Regions from separate parts of the Homo sapiens genome. Here region 1 is linked to region 2. Evidence: fine-mapped expression QTL. A gene starts in region 2. The other region holds a variant in brackets. All regions are shown on one strand. Distances are from middle to middle.

What was found. PIP is the estimated chance that this variant, and not a neighbour inherited with it, causes the effect.
Region 1: its variant is fine-mapped to the expression of COPG2IT1 in testis (GTEx, PIP above 0.99).

The regions. Positions count from the first base shown.
Region 1 is chr7:130,504,006-130,514,881 of GRCh38, reverse strand. It overlaps MEST (mesoderm specific transcript), which reads right to left. Exons shown (of 12, transcript NM_002402.4): 12 at 8,417-9,943. The coding sequence ends at 9,826. It overlaps COPG2 (coat protein complex I subunit gamma 2), which reads left to right. Exons shown (of 24, transcript NM_012133.6): 21 at 6,223-6,320; 22 at 7,059-7,197; 23 at 7,510-7,608; 24 at 8,076-8,644. The coding sequence ends at 8,206. Among named protein-coding and RNA genes, the nearest start is that of MIR335, 13 kb to the right of the region's middle. RefSeq lists an enhancer at 9,632-10,831. The variant A/C (reference allele first, on the strand shown) is at 5,739.
Region 2 is chr7:130,536,015-130,546,890 of GRCh38, reverse strand. COPG2IT1 (COPG2 imprinted transcript 1) reads right to left here and starts at 3,438. Exons shown (of 1, transcript NR_024086.2): 1 at 1-3,438. All of the region lies in intron 20 of COPG2 (coat protein complex I subunit gamma 2), which reads left to right.

The DNA of each region.
Region 1 (10,876 bases), 32 kb after region 2:
CATTCTGAGATCTGGCAGGATTCTCCAGGCATCTTTATGGCGCTGTGGTCTTTCTTATTACCACGCCACCTTTTCAGAATCATTATCTAGTTTATTTAATGCTCCCCTTAGCTTTAACCCCTCTTCATGTCTTTTGGCCCAAATATGGGACTGTCTCTCCAGTCAGTCCTGCCATTCTTCAAATGACCTTTTCATCTGGAGTCAACTTTAATGTTTTCTCCTATTCCTTTTCTCCTTGTTACCTATCTTGCCCTAAAGATGTACGCTACCTTATCTTCAGCCTCCCTTCTTTTAGCTGCTGTCCATATTTCATTCAGATGGACTCTGTCTCCTCCTGAATGGCACTTCCTAGCCAAATTCTCTCTAGTGTCTGTCTCTCATCTGTAGAAAATCTTCACATGACAGAGTAACTTCTAAGAGTAACTTTAATACCGCACTTACATGATATTCATTTGTTTCTCCCCTTTGGTGATTTGCCCTCCCTTAATTATATAGAGTAAAATTTCATCTACCATCTGTACCTGGAAACAAAGAAGTTTCACCCTTGAGATGGGTTTCCAACATGATCTCCAGCCACTCCTCTTCCAATATTAGTCATCCATTCTACAAACTACTCAAAGATCTATCCTGGTGTCTTTAAGTGCTGCCCTATTAGGGCTCATCTTAATCCATCTCCTTCTAATCCTTCTCATTAAACTTCTCACAAAAGCTTCGCATTACTTTTCAAGCACTTGTTCTTCTTCCATTGTATCTACTGCTTTTCAAAGTCTGCAATTAAGAGCCAACATTTGACTGAATAAACCCACATTTTTTAAGGGTTTACAAGATTTCCCATTCTGGGAAACACTTTCCTCATTTTACCTGTCCATGCCACTCCACCTACGCTTACCTACTCTTTGTATAGTTCTCCCTTTACACAGTTTCCAGTCTCTCCTTATTTAATCTTACACTTATGGGGCCGTATCCCTCCAGTCAATACCTGCCAATCTTCAAATGACTCCGTCTCTTCTGCAGGCTCTTCCACTATTTTCCCCAGTTGACCCTAGTAGAACAACTGTTAGTCACTTGTTTTTTCAGCTATCATCTTGTGTATCATTCTCATGAATTTAGTCTTTTCTTCCTCGTCACCTCCACACTACTCTGAAAACACTTGCACTTTCAGTTCATTCCAGACCTTCATAGGGTTCCTGCCACTGCCTATGGCAAGAATCCATTCCATTTAAACTCCTTGACCTTTCACTCTATTGGTCACACTTGTTGCTTCAAACATCATTCAAGCAAAGATTCCCAGATGGCACTTCCTCATGACACCAGTTCTTATTTATCTACTTACTCTTTGTATTCTCTTTCCTTCTTTGGTTGTAACCCAGCTTAACTCACATCTCTCTACTGCATATGCAGCTCTGCCATCTTCTGGTGTTCCTCATTCTGGCCCTCTTTAATGCCCTTCCCTACCCATACATATATATGTATATGTGTATATATATATATACACACACACACACATATATATATATATATACACACACACACACACACATATATATATATATATATATATATATATATATATTTTTTTTTTTTTTTTTTTAGACAGAATTATTTCACTCTTGTCACCCAGGCTGGAGTGCAGTGTGGCCTGATCTCGGCTCACTGCATCCTCCACCTCCCGGGCTCAAGTGATTCTACTGCCTCAGCCTCCCAAGTAGCTGGGATCACAGGCACCTGCCACCACGCCCAGCTACTTTTTGCATTTTTAGTAGAGATGGGGTTTCACCATGTTGGCGAGGCTGGTATCAAACTCCTGACCTCAAATGATCCACCTGTCTCAGTCCCCTGAAGTGCTGGGATTACAGGCATGAGCCACCGTGCCCAGCCCCTACCCACACTTTATATTCCACACTCCAGCCTAAATCCTACATCTTTTCATCTTTTAGCTTCCAGCCTCCATCTTCTCTTTCTCTTCCCCTGTGATATTTTCATTCATGTTTCCCTAGGAAATGTCTGTCACTTTTAGCCAATCCTCACATAGCAGAGTAACTTCTAGGCAACTTCAGTGGAACACTGTGCAATAGTCTACGATATCTTAACTGTCAGTCATCCTTTCACTTGCCATCTCTCTCTTTTTTCTTTTTTTGAGACGGAAACTCACTCTGTCACCCAGGTTAGAGTGCAGTGGCGTGATTTTGGCTCACTGAAACCTCCAGGATTACAGGCATGTGCCACTACGCCCAGCTAATTTTTGTATTTTTACAAAAATTTTTAGTAGAGACGGGGTTTCACCATCTTGGCCAGGCTGGTCTCAAACTCCTGACCTCAAGTGATCTGCCAGCCTCAGCCTCCCAAAATGCTGGAATTACAAGTGTGAGCCACTGCACCCGGCCTTACCATCTCTACAGAAATAGATATAGACTTTTTTACTTCACTCTTCATAATCACCCATTCCCCATCTAGTAGCAATAATCCATTCTCTGGACAAACTACATGTTCACACTCTCTTAATAAATCAAGCCTAATATTTCTAAAGTTGCCATCTATAGCTTTTTTGTTGTTTTTTGTTTTTTTTTTTTAGATGGAGTTTTGCTCTTGTTGCCCAGGCTGGAGTGCAATGGGGCTTGGCTCATGTTAAATTGTCAGAGTTGTATATTAACAAGGAGAGTTGTGTATTAACAAGGAGAGTTAACAAGGCTCACCAACTCGGCTTACCACAACCTCTGCCTCCTGGGTTCAAGTGATTCTCCTACCTCAGCCTCCCAAGTAGCTGGGATTACAAGCATGGGCCACCACGCCCGGCTAATTTTGTATTTTTTTTTTTTTTTTTTTTTTTTTAGAAGACACAGTGTTTCACCATGTTGGCCAGGCTAGTCTTGAACTCCCAACCTCAGGTGATCCACCTGCCTCAGCCTCCCAAAGTGCTGGGATTACAGGCGTGAGCCACTGCACCCGGCCCATCTATAGCTTTTTATCAGCATTCATCAGTTTATAACTTTCCTATCAAGCAAGTCCTTTAATTAGCCATTCCCTCAAAAGCTTTAAGAGCTAGTCTGCTGCTGCCTCCTACTGAATTCCTTGCTCCTTAACCCTTTCTGTGTATTTCCCATGCAGCCGACCATTTAGACCTAGACAGGATACCCCATTCTAAATCTTTATTCCACACCTGCTCTGCCAGTAGGCCCTTCCTTATGTAATATTTTCTTTCCTTTGCTTCCAGTCTCTTATTTCATACTCTCTTATGACTTTTGGCCCAGCAATGCTGTCTTACCTTCCTGTTGATGTGTGTCATTCCTTAGTGACCAACTCCTTTTCATCTGAGGACAACTCTAATGTTGCTTTCCAGTACCATTCCTCCTTCCCTTTCTGAATTTGTCCTAGAGAAAAACTCCCTCCCACCATTTGTACAGCATTCCCACAGACTCAACACGATTTTCCAGGTAGGTGTGTATTGCTTATTTTGGCACTCACTGCCCAGCTTTCCTCGATGTCCTACACACTATGCTGCACCCATTGCTTCTCAGTTCAGTCCAGACCTGCATAGACTGCTGCAGTTAGCCTGTACAGATCCATCTCTTTTGCCTTCTTTCTAATCTTTTGCCCTAGTGACATACCCTTTTCTTTAATTATTATTCTAACAAAGCTTTCTGGAAATACCTCATAAGTGTCTCTTACTTTGTCATGGTCTCCCCCAGGTGGTTGAGACCTGGCAGCTCCCTCCCACCTTTCCCACTCTGCCCTTTGCCACACTGCATTTTCTGTACCCTGGCCCAACTCACATGTCCCTCTCCTGTCTTAGCTGCCAGCATCTATCTTTTCTCTAATTCGCTGGGTTCTTTTCATACAAATCTCCTTAGTGGTTGACTCTCATTTTCAGTGAATCCTCACAAGACAAGCTTAATTTCAGAGAACAGTTTTAATGCAGATCTTCAGGGCATTCTTTCCTGATTCTCTTTGGTATTTGCCTTGCTTTGTCTGTGTAACTCTCATATTTACATTATGGCAGTGCATTCAGTATTTTCTTGCCATGGAAAGGCCCCCGCATCTTGCCTCCTCGCCCCATTTCGTCATCCTCTCCAGCAGCTTCGACAGATTACTGCCTAGACTTCCTTAGATCCCTGTAACCTCTCATTGTATCAATCAAACCATTTAAGTAAAAAAATTCCCACTAAGGTTTCAGGAACATTATCTCTACTAACACCATTCCTATTTACTTCCTTAATCTCTTTCTCTGTATCAGGTCCTTATATGTAAGTGTCTTCTGTCTTTACCTCCACATAAAACTCAGCCCCTGTGCCCAGTCTGTGATCTGCCTTCATACCTGATGTTGTCTCTTTGTCCTCCTCATTTGCTGTAGCCTCTCTGCTTAATTGGAACCACACTGGGTTGCTATAATTAATGTCTCTCCTGACTCTTCATTCTAACTTGATCATGACCTTTTCCCCTACCATATTCTGTATCTCTTTCATGGTTTAAAAAAAATGCCTCACCTGACCTGTTCTGGCCTTGTGTTAACTTTCACTTCTTTCCCCTTCTCTCTGAAGAAAATCCTATCCTAATTAAACCACAGTCGTTCTTTTCTCAACCCCTAATGGCATTGAAATTGATTCTGCAGGCTTGATAGGTTCATTCTTTCCTATATGGGAAAACCCACTGCCATCGTCTGTTTTCAGCATATTCTGTTGAATCCATCTGCTCTCTGAATTCAGACCCATTCTTCATAGTCCCCACCAGTGGCTTAAATTAGGCACCTTATCTAGCTTATCTCTAACCTTTCAATCTCTTGACTGCCTCAGCTCACCAGAGCCTGTTGGAAAATCATTTGAAATACAAGGTATTTTACAATTTATTCCTAAACAAATTATCTTCTCAGCACCTAGGCATTAGCATGCCTCTTACTGTTTCCAGCTGCCCGGTGGACTTTCTGGCCTCTTTCCTTTTGCCTGTTTGTACATCTTCCTCTGCTTGCCAAAGCTCTTTTGCATCTTTTGAGAGCCAGTTAAACTATTATATCGTTTCACATTTTTTACAGTTTTCCCAGGCTATTTGTTAATCCCGCACCCTCACATGGCACTCTCTTAAAACTTAAAGGATCTATGGCATTGAGTTGTAAAGTCATAGATAGATCACACACACACACAGCCCACACACTTATTTAACTCCTAGACAGCTCCTAGAGACAGAGATCATGTCTCAGTCATCTTTTTATCCAAGTGTCTGGCACATAAGCTTATACCTTTACGTGTAATGTCAACATGTATTGACAGTCACTACATGTGTGGATGGATGAATGGATGGAATTTAAAGTCAAGACTGAGCAGATGAAAGTCTTATTACCCAATCTGTCGTATATGGTCTTCACATCTGAGCCTGTTCTTTCCTCTCCTTGCCTATCCCCCAAATAACTTTTTAACTCTCCCAATATCTAATATTTTTTGTACCTATAAGCTTTTTCCAGACCATAGACAAGATCCTAAATGCCTTTTCTTCATCCCTGCTTGCTAAATCCCCTCCTTCAAACATTTCAGAAAATACTGTCTTTACTTTTTATAAAGACTTCACTTTCCAAAAATGTACCCCCACCTCCATTTCTTATTACTTAACACCACTTGTGTGAAAACATACAACTGCCCACTTGCTTTTCCATTTAAGACACTGACTTTACCAATACTAGAAACTCATTACTGACCTACTCACTTTAGGCTGAAGGTTGACAGATAAAGCAAGTTCTCTCTGGTGATCTGTGG[A/C]CCCGCCATCAGTCCACAATCTAAAGATAGTATTGAGATGCTGATGAGATTGGTCAATGTTAATCTGATGATCTGTATGCTTTTTACCACAGGTTTTTTTTTTGTTTTTTTTTTTGGTCAGGTCCTACAGCAGTGGTTCTCAAAATATTTATTTTTCAACATTTAGGCCCCTTTGATAGGCATGGCAAAAAGCCCCCAAAAGTACCTCTCTGCTGCTTTCTTCATACCAATAGAGAAACAGTCTGCCCATGTTATCATTTCTGTACTGCTGTAACCCACAGCGTGGAATAGACTTTACATTCATGCTTTGTGAGACTGCCTTCCTGACCCGCTTGTAGGCTGCTTTTGAGAACCACTACCCCAGACAACAGGGCATGTGTGTTTAACTGGAAAATGTGGAACACAGTGCTGAGTACAGATGGAATGATGGAAACGTCTCCCTTGCACTCCCCACTGATGCAGGTTTGCCTCCCTTCTCCTCCAGTTGCAGGCTCCTTTAGCTGCACCATGAAGTTTACAGTCCGGGACTGTGACCCTAACACTGGAGTTCCAGATGAGGATGGGTATGATGATGAGTATGTGGTGAGTCTTCCCAGCATAGAGACTTTCTTTGACACCTTCACAACACTAAGTGACTTCTGCCTTGAGAGAACATTTTTCTAGGAGCATCTGACATAAACTTAAGGGATTTCTATTCTTCTGAAACAGATGACAAATTAGGAGGACCTGGACTAACCCTCCTCTGTAACTGGACAGCACCAGGCCAGAGAGAATTGAGATTTACCACTTCATCATTAAAACAAACTCACCCTTTTTTTTCTTTATAATAGGGATAATTAAGAGATGAAAATAATGACATGATTTTCATTGAGATCAGTTTTATTTAAAATGATTTGGGGAGGGGGTTGGTTTTGTTTTTTGGTTTTTTGTTTTTGCTTCAGCAGCTGTTAGTTTATAGCCAGATCATGGATTAAAAAGCCTTCACAGAATGGAGGGAAAACTTTTTTTAAAAAATATCAACCTCTTAGTGAATGATCAGAGGGTACCGTGTGCCCAGAACTCAGTGGTCAAGTGTGGGTGCAACATGACTACTCTGTACCTCAGGGCTACAGATGTTGATCTGAGGCTCTTGCCAGATGTTCTGTTTTCTTGCTTTCCTTTGCTAAGGGCTACAACATTAGATTTATCCAGACTACAGAACTTAAACTATTTTGGTGGTAGAGTTTTCTCTAGGCTCCGGAGGACCATATTGACTAGTTCCTTTATCTTTGCCCTATAACAGAAAGGACTTTTCTTTACTGACTGCTTATTACCCACTAGCTGGAAGATCTCGAAGTGACTGTGTCTGACCATATTCAGAAAGTACTGAAGCCTAACTTTGCTGCTGCTTGGGAAGAGGTGGGAGATACCTTTGAGAAAGAGGAAACCTTTGCCCTCAGTTCTACCAAAACCCTTGAAGGTGAGACCCATTTTGCTATCAGTATATTGCCTGATAACAGTATAACACCTAACAGGCATATTTGTTACTCCAGAAGAACTCCTTTAAAAAAAAAAAAACTTCATAAATCTCTTACTTAAAAGGCCAGCACCCTGTCTTCATCATCTAATTGATCAGCCATTTTCTAGTCCAGTAGTAGCCTCCCTCTACACATCACCAACAACCCCCTTCACCAACAAACCCTTCCACCCCAGCTCCCAGCATACACTGGTGCAGAGGGAGATCCCTGTGCTTTACTTTCCTAATACTGTCTCATACATCTTCTCAACACAGAGGCTGTCAACAATATCATCACATTTCTGGGCATGCAGCCATGTGAGAGGTCCGATAAAGTACCTGAGAACAAGAATTCCCATTCGCTCTATCTGGCAGGTAAGAAGCTTCCATCAGATTTTCCTTCCATTTTCTTGCAAAGCTTAATAATAGGATATAGATGGGCATCTTATGCCTTGCTGTTGTCCCATCATCCCATTATATGAGTAACAATTTGATACCCAGTCAAAATGAATAATTTGTTTTGCATGCTATTCTTGGTTATTCTTTTAAGATGTACATTTGGCCCAAAACAAATCTCTCCAACAGATACCAAGGCCACCACCAACATTCCTTTTGAGTACTCCAAATTGGTATTTTTGAATACCTTCTATGTACCTGGTTTCATGGGAATATAAAAATATATATATTTGGAATTTATGTTTGTTTAGGATTCAGTTTCCACAAGTCTCTGGAAAAGCTAAACTAAACTAATAGAAAGGAGATGCAGGGATAGCATGATAAATTTCATTATCCAGTGCTTGTTTTGGGTTCTTAATATGGTTTTCCTTACTTTTTTCTCTCAGGTATATTCAGAGGTGGCTATGATTTATTGGTGAGGTCCAGGCTGGCCTTAGCCGATGGAGTGACCATGCAGGTGACTGTCAGAAGTAAAGAGAGAACACCTGTAGATGTTATCTTAGCTTCTGTTGGATAAATGCTTACTGGACAAGAGGAAACTGATGCACACTACATGGTCAGTGGGCTTTTAGGCTAGTGGCATCAGTTTCCCAGAATCAGACTTTTGAAGATGAATGACTTTGGAGAAGCAAATTAAACATTTGGCCCTGAGCCAGCAGATCAAGCAAATGTCTATCTTTGCGCATGGGTTGTTTTTTTTTTTTTTTCTTTTTATTCTACTTGGTCAGCTTTGGGACGATAGTGCAGCTTTGGGTGATCTTGAAAATCAAATACTATCCTATACTCCAGCTGCTTAACTTCATTTTATTCTTTAATGTGTACCTGAAAGCTCCTGGCAATGCTGGAAAATTTTTATCCCAGAGGGGTGGGGGGGAGGGGGGAGGGGAAGCCAGAGTCCACTTTTGTCACAATTCATTTTTATTAATAGAAAATAAACACTTATTCCAGTTTCAAAGTTGTTATACTTGAAGTTGCTAATTTAAAAAAACGAATTTTAAATAATCACTTAATAATCCTGCTTTGACTAAGACAATGAAATGTGGCTTTAAAAAAAAAGTATTCAGCACCATTTGCTCATAGGTCTTTCAGAGTTTGTTCTTAAAGTTTCTGGAACTTTCCTGTCTGTAAAGTAACAGGAATTACTGAGCTACATTGGAAAGCCTCTCTGGGACAGGCAGTGGGGAGTTAAGCAGTCATCATAAAGGAATCAGTGTACATTCAGCATGGTGACTTGACTACACAACAATCCCTTCCCCTCTACTGTAGCTCAAGAGAGACATGCTTCTAACCACTGAGGTATGAGGAGTCTCAGACTGTTATTTGCTGTTAGAATTGGTCTTCCCAGCTAATAACAGTACATCTCTGGCACAGATGCTATTGGTCCTTAATGTCCTGTGATTTTAGGAAATAGTTTGGATTTAGTTCAATTTATTCAGAAACCAAATGTGTTTAATTAGCTTCACTACTCTGGCAGAGTAAGGGTATGCTGGTTTAGTATCTTTATAAAATATATATAATGTATAGGTAAATCATAGTCTTAAATCATACCTAAAATACTGTATCATTTAAACCAATATCTATTTTAACAAAATGTTTATAACTAAAAACAGCTGATGAAACACTAAATCCAAAGGTATGACAAAGAGGACTCAGCTCTGTGTTGCTTAAAGAACTTTTAAAAGGCATGTGCCCATAACGTCATTCGAGGAGAGGGAAGGAGCCCCCCTTCTCCTCCTCCTTACTATAGAATTCCTGTTGGGGGTGGGCCAGAAATTAGCACTTCTAAATATTTCAGAGAAGTCCAAAGTGTTAAAAAAAAGTCTTTTATGCAAAAGAACGTCTTTCTGCATCAGTGAATAGTAATGCTCATCAGAATTTCCTAATAGCACAAAAAACAAAGCCAAGTCTATACATTTGATCAGATATCAAAGTAATGGGAGGTGGACTATTATGTCAACCTTAGTCAGAGCTCCTGCTGGCTTCTTCCTATACACTGTTCACCAATTTGAGTAAAGTGGACTTTGTGAGAGAATTATGTTTGATGGCCAGGACCTCTTTTGGGCATTTCTTCCTAAGTGGAATACACAACACATAAGGGAGTAGGGGAGGTAATACAGGGAAGCTACTCTTTCCAGCTCAGAAGGAGTTGATGAAGCCCATATATGCATTCAAGAAGCCCATGGGATCCTCTAGCTGTGGATAGTGGCTAATGTGGTCATCCAGAATCGACACTGTGGACCGCGGCAGCGTTTTCCTAGTGGAAGAGAACAGCACGCAGGTGAACTTGAGGCTGGAGCGGGAGGGATGTAAGCCAGTGGGAAGCCCCAGTAAATGACCCTGTGGACACACCACACTGGAAGGAGCCACCAAAGAGCTTATTCACCTTCTACTCTGAAATTGTATCTTAGGCAGATAAACTTGCCAATTCCATTTATACAAACTAGTTTTTAAATGTTCATAATCCAACAAACAACAACTTGAAAATATAACACTTTTGCAACAATTGTCAAAGCAAGATGACTTTCAGCTCCTTAGAGAAGGATGAAGCATCAAACAAGTGGATCACACAGCAACTCACTGCCCAAGCAGAGATAACCAAGGATCTTCCCTTAATCCCAGGAGGAGATGAGAGAGGGGGTATTTTATTTAAAATTATATGCAAGCTGTTTACTACTAGCTTGTATCCAGTAGGCCACAGGAAGGTATGGAACATTCTTATGTGACATAATCAAGATTTCATATTCTGATACCTTCCAAGTAAGTACCTAGAGAGAATAGCAACCAATGAGAAGGCACTTTTCCACAATGAGCTCTTCTCAATCTCTCCTTGCCATCTGCTCAGCCTAAACCAATGAATTGGCTTTACAATCAGACTAAAACAAACAAACACTTTGTAGGTATATCCACTTTCAACCTTTGACTCACATGAGAGCTTTTTGTACACCAAGGAATATGTAGCAGTCATGACAGTGAAAACAGACTATGTATAAATCAAGAGAACGTATAACTGAATGTCTTGATACTACAATTATGTTAGAATAAGATTCCTCAACTCAATCTTTTTATTGTTTCCTGGATGAACAGCCAGCGAGGTTAAAGACAATGGCTAGAGCCAATAGCCCTCAACAGGCAATTCTGTTTACCACTGTCAGGATGAGATACTAACAAAACATAGACTTCTCTCGGG
Region 2 (10,876 bases):
GAACAACTTTTACTGCTCGTAAGTACAGGAGAAACAGAAGTTAAAAAATTAACAAATACTGGGAAAGTTACAGAGTTACAATAAATCATAAAAGCACTAGTAAATAGTTATCCCTGGTCATCATTCAGTTACATTTGGGGCTTAACCTGCTTTCTTTTAGCCCCTCTCCAAACTCCCTTCTTAGATGTTGGTTCCTGGGAGCCCCTGTCCAGTCTTATCTGTGTTGGGTGATAGACTAGGCTACTCAGACTCTAGCACGAGGTAGATTCACGTTGGCACCACTGCTGTGTCTGAATCCCAGATTGTTCCCTCTGGCCCTGGGTGGAACTCTACTTCTATTCTTTAGCCACCCTGGATCCATAACCCCCTGAGTAGGAAGGCACTTTCCTATCTGGCCTCCAATATTTCTCCTTTGAGCTCGAGGCTATCTGGCTTTAACCTTTAATTACCTCCTTTATCCCTTTGTGAGGTTTCTCTAGTTCCATTTCCTTGTAACTTCGCTTTCTCTCCTGGTCTGTTTTTCTCTCCAGTTAGATTTGTCTGAAATATGTCCACTAGCCAGTAATTAAGCTGGCTGTACTCTTAAGTAAAGCTAGTTTTATTTACCTTTTTCTAAACTAGTATTTGGGCCCAATCTTAATGTAGTCCTGTGGTTTCTACCATTGTCTGGAGAGACTCTGCACTTCATCAGTTCTTTTCCAGTAGCCATCCCTCCATGTTTCAAAATTCCTCCTGCTATTCTACCTCTCACCAATGTCCTGTTTTTTAAGGGATGCTATTACTTTGCCACTTAATTTCAGAGGGAAGTGAAATGCTGAACCCATTGAAGAATCAATCCCTTGCCAATTGAGAATACTAGCTCTTCCCACTTCCCCAGGTTCATTTTGCTAACTAATAACTCAGGTGGCTCACACCCCAGAAAGTATTCTTAACGGAATCTAAGAAGTATAATTTTATAATACCAAAATACACAAAACAACAATATAGAAATTACATATAGTATAGGAAAAAACCAACAACAACAACAAAACATTTCCACCAAGAGAGGAAAAAGAGGAGAGGTTTTCTTGCCCCTCTTCACTAAGGAGTTTTAAAACATAGATCTTACAAATTAGCCCAGAGATTTCAACATTTGGTCTGCTGGCTATGGACTCTTTTGCTTGATGGTTTGTTTGATTTTTGTTTATAAAAGTTTGGCATTTAGGGAATTGTTTAAAGTTTTGTTAGTAGTAAGTTTATATTTGACCCATCATATACCTACTTAAAAAACAAACTCCTTTCTATTTAGTTTTTTGTCAGAATTCTCAAATTTTTAATCCATGGCCAATCTAAAGTCTATGCTGTGCAATGGAAGAAGTGAAATACCAGGGCATAGATGGTAATAGGTATCTTTCACCCATTCCTTCCTTTTTGCATTTTCCCATCACAGATATTCCAAATTTTACCTGTCACCTCAAGGTCTTAAACATCAATATGTCTCATTTCAGAAAAATAATATTTTTCCTTATAATCGCAGTGAAAAAACAGAAATTCTTGGTTTGATTTCCTTCAACTTGAAAACAGTATAGCATAATAGAAGGGAATATGGGTTTGATAGACAGATGAGGATTTGAATGCTGGCCCTGCTACATACTGACTGTGTAATCGTGGACAAATTATTTGATCTCTTAGGACTGTTATAGGATGAAATGAAATGAAATGAAATGAAATGAAATGAAATAATAGGTAAGTTGCTTCACATGGTGCCAGACACATAGAACCTTTTGGTGTTTAATTCTAGAATTATCCACTTTCTTCCTTTATCCTCTCTAAAATCAAGTCTTCCAGAGTTCAAAAGACACATACCCTCTAATCTCTTCCAGAAAGTTGTTCCATCAATTATTCCTTTCTTTGATCTATCTTTAATCTTTCCTACTCCCCTTTACTTTATAAATGTATAAAAATCTACCCTATCTGAAAAAATTTGCTTTAACCCAACATCAATATATTACCATAACACCTTCTCGCAAAGGTTGGGCAATTTCTTGAAAGACTATGGACATCCTAAGTCTCTATGTAACTAGTCCTACTTATTATCTTTCGTCCTCCCAGAATTTGTCCTTTACCTAAAAAGTTTTAGAAAAGCCTTTAAGGCAACATTCCTTCTAAGCATTCATTCTCTTTCAGCAGCTCTGTTTCCCCTGAATATTTATTGCACCCGTAACAATATATATTATATACACAACATTCTACCAATTATTCCCCATGTTTGACCTTTTTAATGCAACTACCAACTTAACTTTTTATTCCACTACCTATTCAAAACCATTCTAATCTTTATATTGCTTTTATTTATCAGGTTTTATTGCATCATATTTCTTGTTATCTGGAACCATTTCAACAAATATTAATAACTTATTTTAAAACAGTCTTTAATAGAAAATATTCATACTAAGATCAGCTGTAACAGTACATGTATGTGAGTTTATTTTCTCTGATTTTCATTGGAAATATTGCCTGCCATATAATGATTCATAATTATTTTAATTTCTTGACTTTCTGCCTACACTTCCTTAAAGTGCCATCTTAAGCTACTGTAGTTGCCCTTCCATTATTTTTTGTTCAGTATTAACCATATTAACTTGGCATTCTGTACTAAAAACACAACTTCAGTTAAGTAAGATTTGCCTCAGAGTTTTTTACTTTAACTCACCTCCACTCACCCACTGGGATCCATATTATTAGGCTCAGTGAAGCTTTGCATTCTTCTAAGCCAAGCATTTAATCTGAATTTTAACTCAAATACTAAAAAAAGCAGTATTGGTAGAACATTTGATTCAGCCACCCTTTCCCCTTCCTTTATCACTAGAATTTGCTTCAGTCTGGCTTTAAAATCAATATTCCTGCAGTCTAACCCATTGAAAGATCTGCCAGGATTCTCAGTCTGAGATTTCCTTATTTACCCACTCATTTGTCACATACCCAGTCTGCCATTCCTCAAACTCACTGAAATTTCCCTCATTTCCTTTCAAGCCATCTTTCTAACCTATTTGATACCCCTTTTCTACCCCATCATCTTCAATGTCTCTAATTTTTGTTGCTGACTTGACTTAAATGATCCTATCTCTACAGAATGCAACTTAATCATGGTGTACCCACTCATTTCTGCCTTTTGCCTTAGGGGAAAAACAAAACAAAACCCTGCTCTATTGGTAACGCCCAGTCTTTGTTCATCTGTCCTTGAAATTGATTCACAATGTGAATATGTATAAGCTTCCTCATGACCCACCTCCAGTGTTCAAAACACTTCCTTCCTGTTCTCTTGGTGTCCAACATACTTACCTGCATCCTTAGCTAGTAGAACTGACATTCTGAGGATTGCTGATGAAGCTCATCCTTCAGACTCCGCTTCATAAACCTATCTCTATATGGGACCGTTTATTCTCCTGACTCTAAGCATTCATCAAGTGTTTCCCTCAAGGAGCTTTAAGGAAGCCACCAAATTCCCTAATGACAAGTTCTTTCTATATAGTTTTCCTCTTTGCCATTATTCCATACTGTGGATCAAGGGGCAACAATACCCACCCTACCAACTCTGACATTCCTAAATCCCAAAGTGGTTTAAACTGTATACTGTCCCCTTAATTTCAATCTTGTTAAACAGAGTAATACTTCCTTCTCATTTTGGCTCTGCTAATTTTGTTGGAGACCACATTAAACACATAGTAACCTATGTCCAACCCCCACACTTGCAAATTTTACATTGTTAATTGTTTGCTTTCAAAATCCTGACCTTCAGTGATTGCCAACACTGCCTTCCATATCAGTTGGGGTTGCTTTACCATCACCCTCTATAAGGTTTCTTCTTTTTCTGTTTTCCTATTCAATGAAGTAGTTACCATGACAGGTAAAGTGTTGTTACCCCACTCGCTTGTCGTCTAGGATTTAACTTCTATTCCCTAAAATGCTCCTACACTCAGCCATGATACCGAACATACCACTGACTTGCCCCTGAGATTTGCCAGTGCCCCCACTTTGGGAACTCTGCATTCCACCTTCCCCTATTCCATGTCAGCCCTTTTACTGATGCTAAGCCCTGCACAAATTCATAAGGTTATCTCCCCTCCTACCTGCCTCCTGTCCCTTCTTTTACCATAAACTTCCGTCATCAAATTTACATCCCAATAACTGCCTTAGAATGGCTGCCAGACTCTCTCATTCCATGTGGTATGCCAGTGTAAATTTGCACAGTCTACACACAGTGTTGCCTCCCACTGTCATCTTCCAGAAACTCCTTTTCATCTTCAACATCCAGTCCTGCATGCCCTGCCACCTCCAAGTCAATCCACAGACTCAGGAATCTGTCCTGAACTCTGACCCCTTCCTGCCCTGCCCCCCACTGATGACACCACTGCCAGCTTCCATGTCCTCAACCTGCTGTACTGAGTCCATCTGCTGTCTCAGTTCACCCCTAACCGTCCTGTATTCTCAGTTCTGCCTCTAAGGAACAGTGGTTTCCTCTCTCTGTTGTGTCCTCTGGCCTTCCATCGTCTCGCCATGCCCTTTATTGACACACGGTCCTCAATGTTTCCAAGGTGCCAACACCTCTACACCCTGTTTCTGTGGCCTCATCTCACCTCTCCTTCATTCCTTCCGTGTCTTACCCACACCATGCTTTCTCCTCCATGACCTGCATCAAACACTTCACCCCTTTGGGGCAAAAAGGAGGATTCTCTACGTTCACACCCACACTCTTGCTCTTGGCATGCCTCCCTTGCTGCAGTACATTCCCTGATCCTCTCAACAAGCTCACCTCCGTAAGCTGCTGGCCTCCATAACCTGCTCCAACTCATTCTTCTTGCCCATTGGGGAACACCTCTCCTCTGTCCTGCTCTCCCATATGCTGCAAACTCACCCTCTGCTCTCCCAGCTCCCAGCTCCTGGGCCCAGGTTGGTCGTTTCTCCTGCTTTCCTCCTCTACTGCATAGCACGGTACTGTCCCACCTGCACCATGCTGCGTTCTCTCAGCACCACCTGCGATTCTGCCACTGGCCTAATTCGTGTTCTCAGGTGTGTCCTCCCTTCTTGACCTGGCCCCGCACCCACTGCTCCACCAGATGCAGTCCTCTCTGTGTCACACGTACTGCACTGAATCCACACGCTCTGCTGTCCAAGCTCACGTCCCAGTGGCCCAGGCTATGAGTCCTTTCCAGGGCCCCACAACCCTGACTCCCCTAAACCTTCCTGATTCTTTTCTCATCCTTTCTTTCACACTGTGTAAAAACACTCTGGGGAACATCTGCCTCTGAATCTCCTACCTTGTTCCTATCACCATAGCAATTTTGTCTTTGTCACTCACTCGTGTCTCGCTCTCTGCCCGTCCTCATCTCCCACCCCATACACACCCAGTCTCAACCTGACTCTCCTGCCCTGCCTGAGACTCAGCTCCTCTGCTCCTCCTGGGTGCTGCTGTCAGTCCCACCCTCCTCCCACCTCCTCCCTCCTTAAGGCCCGTGTCTTCAAGACGCTCTCCTTCCACACTGTCTCCATTTCCCTTTGCACCTTCCCTCCCCGTGACAACAGATCCCCTGCTCTCTGCTCTCACCCGCACAGCCCACTTCCTCTGTGTCACTAGGCCCTTCTCTAGGCCTCACTCCTCCACCTTGAGTCTGGGACCGAGGCATTGGAAAACCCAGTTCCACCACCAGGGTACCCGGTGCCTTTTCGGCTACATCCATCTGCTCGCTGTCATCTTTGTCCTGATCTGTCGGGAACTGTGTTCCCACACCTGACAGTCTTGACCCTGATGCCTCCATCAGCCCCACTGCACGTGCGTCTTCCCCTCACACTCCACGTGTCTGCCCGGCTCTCCATCCTCCCGCATCCACCAGTGATTCTCACCCGAGAATGCAGGACCCCAAGGCGGCCTATCAGAAGCATCTTTTGGGCTTGGTTTCTTCTTTTGCTATTGTCTATGTTCCTTTTAGAGACTGCTATTTTTTTTCCCTTACTTTTACTGAGCTGAACACTGCTCACCCCTCAGATGATTGGATAGCCCTGCCTGGGGGTCCATGTCCAGAGACCTCCCTCCACGTGAAATTCACCCCCTACCCCAGATAAGAATCACTGCTATGGATGGCCACCTTGACTCCCTGACATTACTCCCTCATTTCACACCTAGACCATTCTAGTGCTTGCCATAGGTGGCATTCTAGTACTTGCCATTTAACTTCCCACTTAACACATCTCATCTTTTGTCTGCCCACCCCCATTAGGCCTGGAACTCTCTGCTTGGAACCACTTCATTCCTTCCCTATTTGCCCTTTAACACACCTCTGACCCCAAACACCAGTCTGCATTGGAAACTTGTTCTTTTAATGCCTCCCCACCCGATACGTCTTGTCCTCCCACCTGATAGGACTCTTAGGCCCTGTGTCAGTATCTTCGGCCTCAACCTGTTTCTTATGGGTGCTTACTATTGTCAGTTTTCCTTAATCCCCACCCCTTTTTTCAGATCCCTTACAAGATCGGCCTGCAGAAACTTCCCCCTTTGTTTCCCGAGTTCTCAGTTGTTTCCTAAAAACCAGCCATTTACCTTGACCTTTCGACCTACAAGAAACCACTTTCATTTACTTCTTTCGGTGGATTTAGACGGCTACCCCAGCCTGTATTCATCACCTGCAACATTAGATATGTAACCCACCAGCTCAGTTAAATAAGAAAGTTTCCTCCAACCCAGAACTTGGCTCGATTCTCCCCATCTGGTTCCCTACCTCCTCTCCCACTCACACCCCACTGCTCCCAATCCTTCCCTCCTTTCCAACCCAGTCAGTCCCAACCCAAATCCCATCCCAAACCCCATCCCCTTCACCCAACCCACCCTTCCCCACTGCATCCATAGCAAAGACCCTGGCCCAAGATTCACACTTCTGCAACAAAGTTCAAGGCTTTAAGAGCAGCCATTCCTTCCTGCCCATTGCTGTCCACCCCTTTCACACTTTCCCTTCCCCTGCCGAACCTTGCAGGCTGCCCTGAGCACTCCACATTCCTTTGTTCCTACTCTGGGACCTCCCCGTTCACCTCGCTCCAACTATGGCTGTCCTGCCTGTGGCTGTCCTGCCCAGCTCCCTTCCACCATGCTTTCTGCCCTCCATCCTTCCCTGGGGGCCCCTCCACCCTGTCTGTCTTCTGTAGGTGACTCCCCTGTTGGCGCTGCCTCATCGTCCCACTTCCACATTCTTTCTTGAAGCCTTTCCCCTTGCATCCACATTTCTTCTCTTTGCTTCCTTGGCCAAGGGAAGGTACCTGCCTGTCTGTGGCCAGTATTTCTCTCAGCCACCCAGGGCCTGTCGCTTCATCTGACTCAGTCATCTCTTCTCCATAGGGATGTGCTCACTACTTTGACCTGCTTTCACCGCTCAAACTTTTCCATCCTCTCTCTATCCCACCTTCTCTTCAAGAACTGTTTTCTGTTGCTCCTCCAGATCTTCCACTGATTGAGGCCAGTGCCTTCCCTTAGGCTGCCTTTTCCTTCCCCTCTTCCACTCCAGCCTTGTTTCCTCTTTTCTCTTTCTGTTCCATGAAGTGAGTTCCTACAAAACTCTACAGCCAGTCCCGCCACTTCCTCCTCTTCCTCCTTTCTTCATCTCCATTATTTCCATTTACCTTGGATAGGGTCCCAGTGAGCCCATGCACCCCTGCCCATCACACCTGATCTTGCAGTACCCATTGAAGCTATCTGGATCCACCATTTCTTCTTTCCCTCTTGGCCACACTACCTTTACTATACCCTTGTTTAGAATTTAAGACCTTCTTCTTACACAGGTCCTGCCATCCATCCTGTTCTGCCTTTCCTCCTCTCTGCCCTCTGGAAAAAGTTTCCAAAAATGAAGCCCCCGTATCAGCACCCAAACCTTCATCCTATCCAAACTCTGGGCATGCCCACTGTGCCCATTTACTACTGACCTAATCTCCCACTAAATCTAAGATGCTACCTGTGTTTGAAGGCCCCCGCTTCCTACTTCACTGCACCTCTGTAGTGAAGTGTGGTGTAGTGCATATTTTCAGTTGCAAGCTACACCTCCATCCTCTCAGGCTCCCTTGACAACAGAGGTTCAGACTCAGTGGTCACTAGGAATTGTCTTCTCTCCATTAGTTCCCTCTAACACTTGCAAGTATCTTTCTGCCCACATACTAGACTCAAAACACATGAGTCCATCCCCTCCCAGGCCCCCAGCCCCCAAGGTTTACCTGCCAGTACGTTCCATGCAGGTGCTGTCTGAATGTGCAGTGATGCCCCATTTCCTCCATTTACCCTGAGTGACTTAGGCACCTTCCCCCTACTTTCCTTTCCTAAGGATCCACTTCTGAAAAGCCTGGGATTTTGCCTCCCTACCGTAATCCTATGGGTTGGCCTTGATAAGAAGCATGATACCAACTTCCCTGAGATCTGATAAAACCCCATTTGGGGAACTCTGATTTCCTCCTTCCCCTTTTCTGCATCGGACCCTGTACGGACACTAAGCTCCCCACAACTTCATGATGTTCTTTCCCCTCCTGCACCACAAATCTCTTTCTTTTCCCATCAACTTCCCTGACCCCACTCACATCACACCACCTCCATGTGGCTGCTCCACTCCAATGTCTCACTTTTTCCACACAAGGTTCACATTTAATTCCTGCACCACTGTTTCCTCCCACTTTCATCTTCCAGACATGCTCCACCTCCTCTTCAACATCCAGTCCTGCGTGCCCTGTCTCCGCCAGGTCAATCCACAGACTCAGGAATCTTTCCTGAACTCTGACCCCTTCCTGCCCTGCCCCCACTGATGACACCACTGCCAGCTTCCATGTCCTCAACTTGCTGTACTGAGTCCATCTGCTGTCTCAGTTCACCCCTAACCGTCCTGTATTCTCAGTTCTGCCTCTAAGGAACAGTGGTTTCCTCTCTCTGTTGTGTCCTCTGGCCTTTCATCGTCTCGCCATGCCCTTTATTGACACACGGTCCTCAATGTTTCCAAGGTGCCAACACCTCTACACCCTGTTTCTGTGGCCTCATCTCACCTCTCCTTCATTCCTTCCGTGTCTTACCCACACCATGCTTTCTCCTCCATGACCTGCATCAAACACTTCGCCCCTTTTGGGCAAAAAGGAGGATTCTCTACGTTCACACCCACACTCTTGCTCTTGGCATGCCTCCCTTGCTGCAGTACATTCCCTGATCCTCTCAACAAGCTCACCTCTGTAAGCTGCTGGCCTCCATAACCTGCTCCAACTCATTCTTCTTGCCCATTGGGGAACACCTCTCCTCTGTCCTGCTCTCCCATATGCTGCAAACTCACCCTCTGCTCTCCCAGCTCCCAGCTCCTGGGCCCAGGTTGGTCGTTTCTCCTGCTTTCCTCCTCTACTGCATAGCACGGTACTGTCCCACCTGCACCATGCTGCGTTCTCTCAGCACCACCTGCGATTCTGCCACTGGCCTAATTCGTGTTCTCAGGTGTGTCCTCCCTTCTTGACCTGGCCCCGCACCCACTGCTCCACCAGATGCAGTCCTCTCTGTGTCACACGTACTGCACTGAATCCACACGCTCTGCTGTCCAAGCTCACGTCCCAGTGGCCCAGGCTATGAGTCCTTTCCAGGGCCCCACAACCCTGACTCCCCTAAACCTTCCTGATTCTTTTCTCATCCTTTCTTTCACACTGTGGAAAAACACTCTGGGGAGCCTCTGCCTCTGAATCTCCTACCTTCTTCCTGTCACCAGAGTAGTTTTGTCTTTGTCACTCATTCGTGTCCCACTTTCTGCCCATCCTCGTCCCCCCGGTACGAATGCACCCAGTCTCAACCTGACTCTCCTGCCCTGCCTGAGACCCAGCTCCTCTGCTCCTCCTGGGTGCTCCTGTCAGTCCCACCCTCCTCCCACCTCCTCCCTCCTCCTTAAGGCCCATGTCTTCAAGACGCTCTCCTTCCACACTGTCTCCATTTCCCTTTGCACCTTCCCTCCCCGTGACAACAGATCCCCTGCTCTCTGCTCTCACCCGCACAGCCCACTTCCTCTGTGTCACTGGGCCCCTATCTTGGCCTCACTCCTCCACCTGAGTCCTCGAGTCTCGGACCGAGGCGCTGGAAATCCCAGCTCCACCACCATGGTCCCGGTGCCTTTTCGGCTACATCCATTTGCTCGCTGTCATCCTTGTCCTGGTCTGTCGGGAACTGTGTTCCCACACCTGACAGTCTTGACCCTGATGCCTCCATCAGCCCCGCTGCACGTGCATCTTCCCCTCACATTGTACATGTCTGTCCGGCTCTCCATCCTCCCGCGTCCACCAGTGATTCTCACCCGAGGATGCAGGACCCCGAGGAAGCCTATCAGAAGCATCTTTTGGGCTGGGTTTCTTCTTTTGCTGTTATCTGTGTTCCTTTTAGAGATTGTTTTTTTCCCTTACTTTTTCTGAGCTGAACACTGCTCACCCCTCTGATGATTGGATAGGCCTGCCTGGGGGTCCATGTCCCCAGCCCTCCCTCGGGTGAAACCCACCCCTCAACCCCAGATAAGAATCACTGCTGTGGACGGCCACCTTGACTCCCTGGCCTTTACTCTCCTATTTCTAGCATTTAGTATTTTGGTATTTCCAGGTACACTTCCTACTCATAAGACCAGCATTTCCCTCCCCCTGCCCAACAGTCCTGGCACTCTCCACTTGGAACCACCTCATTGTCTGCCCCATTTACCCCTTAACACACATCGTGCCCAAAAGCCCAGTCTGCATGAGAGAGTTGCGCTTCTGACACCTCCACACCCCACCCTTTATGCCCTGACCCATCTAATATGACTCCCAGGCACTCAGTTAATACCTTTGGCCTCAATCTAATTTTCGTAGGCCCTTACTACTGACATTT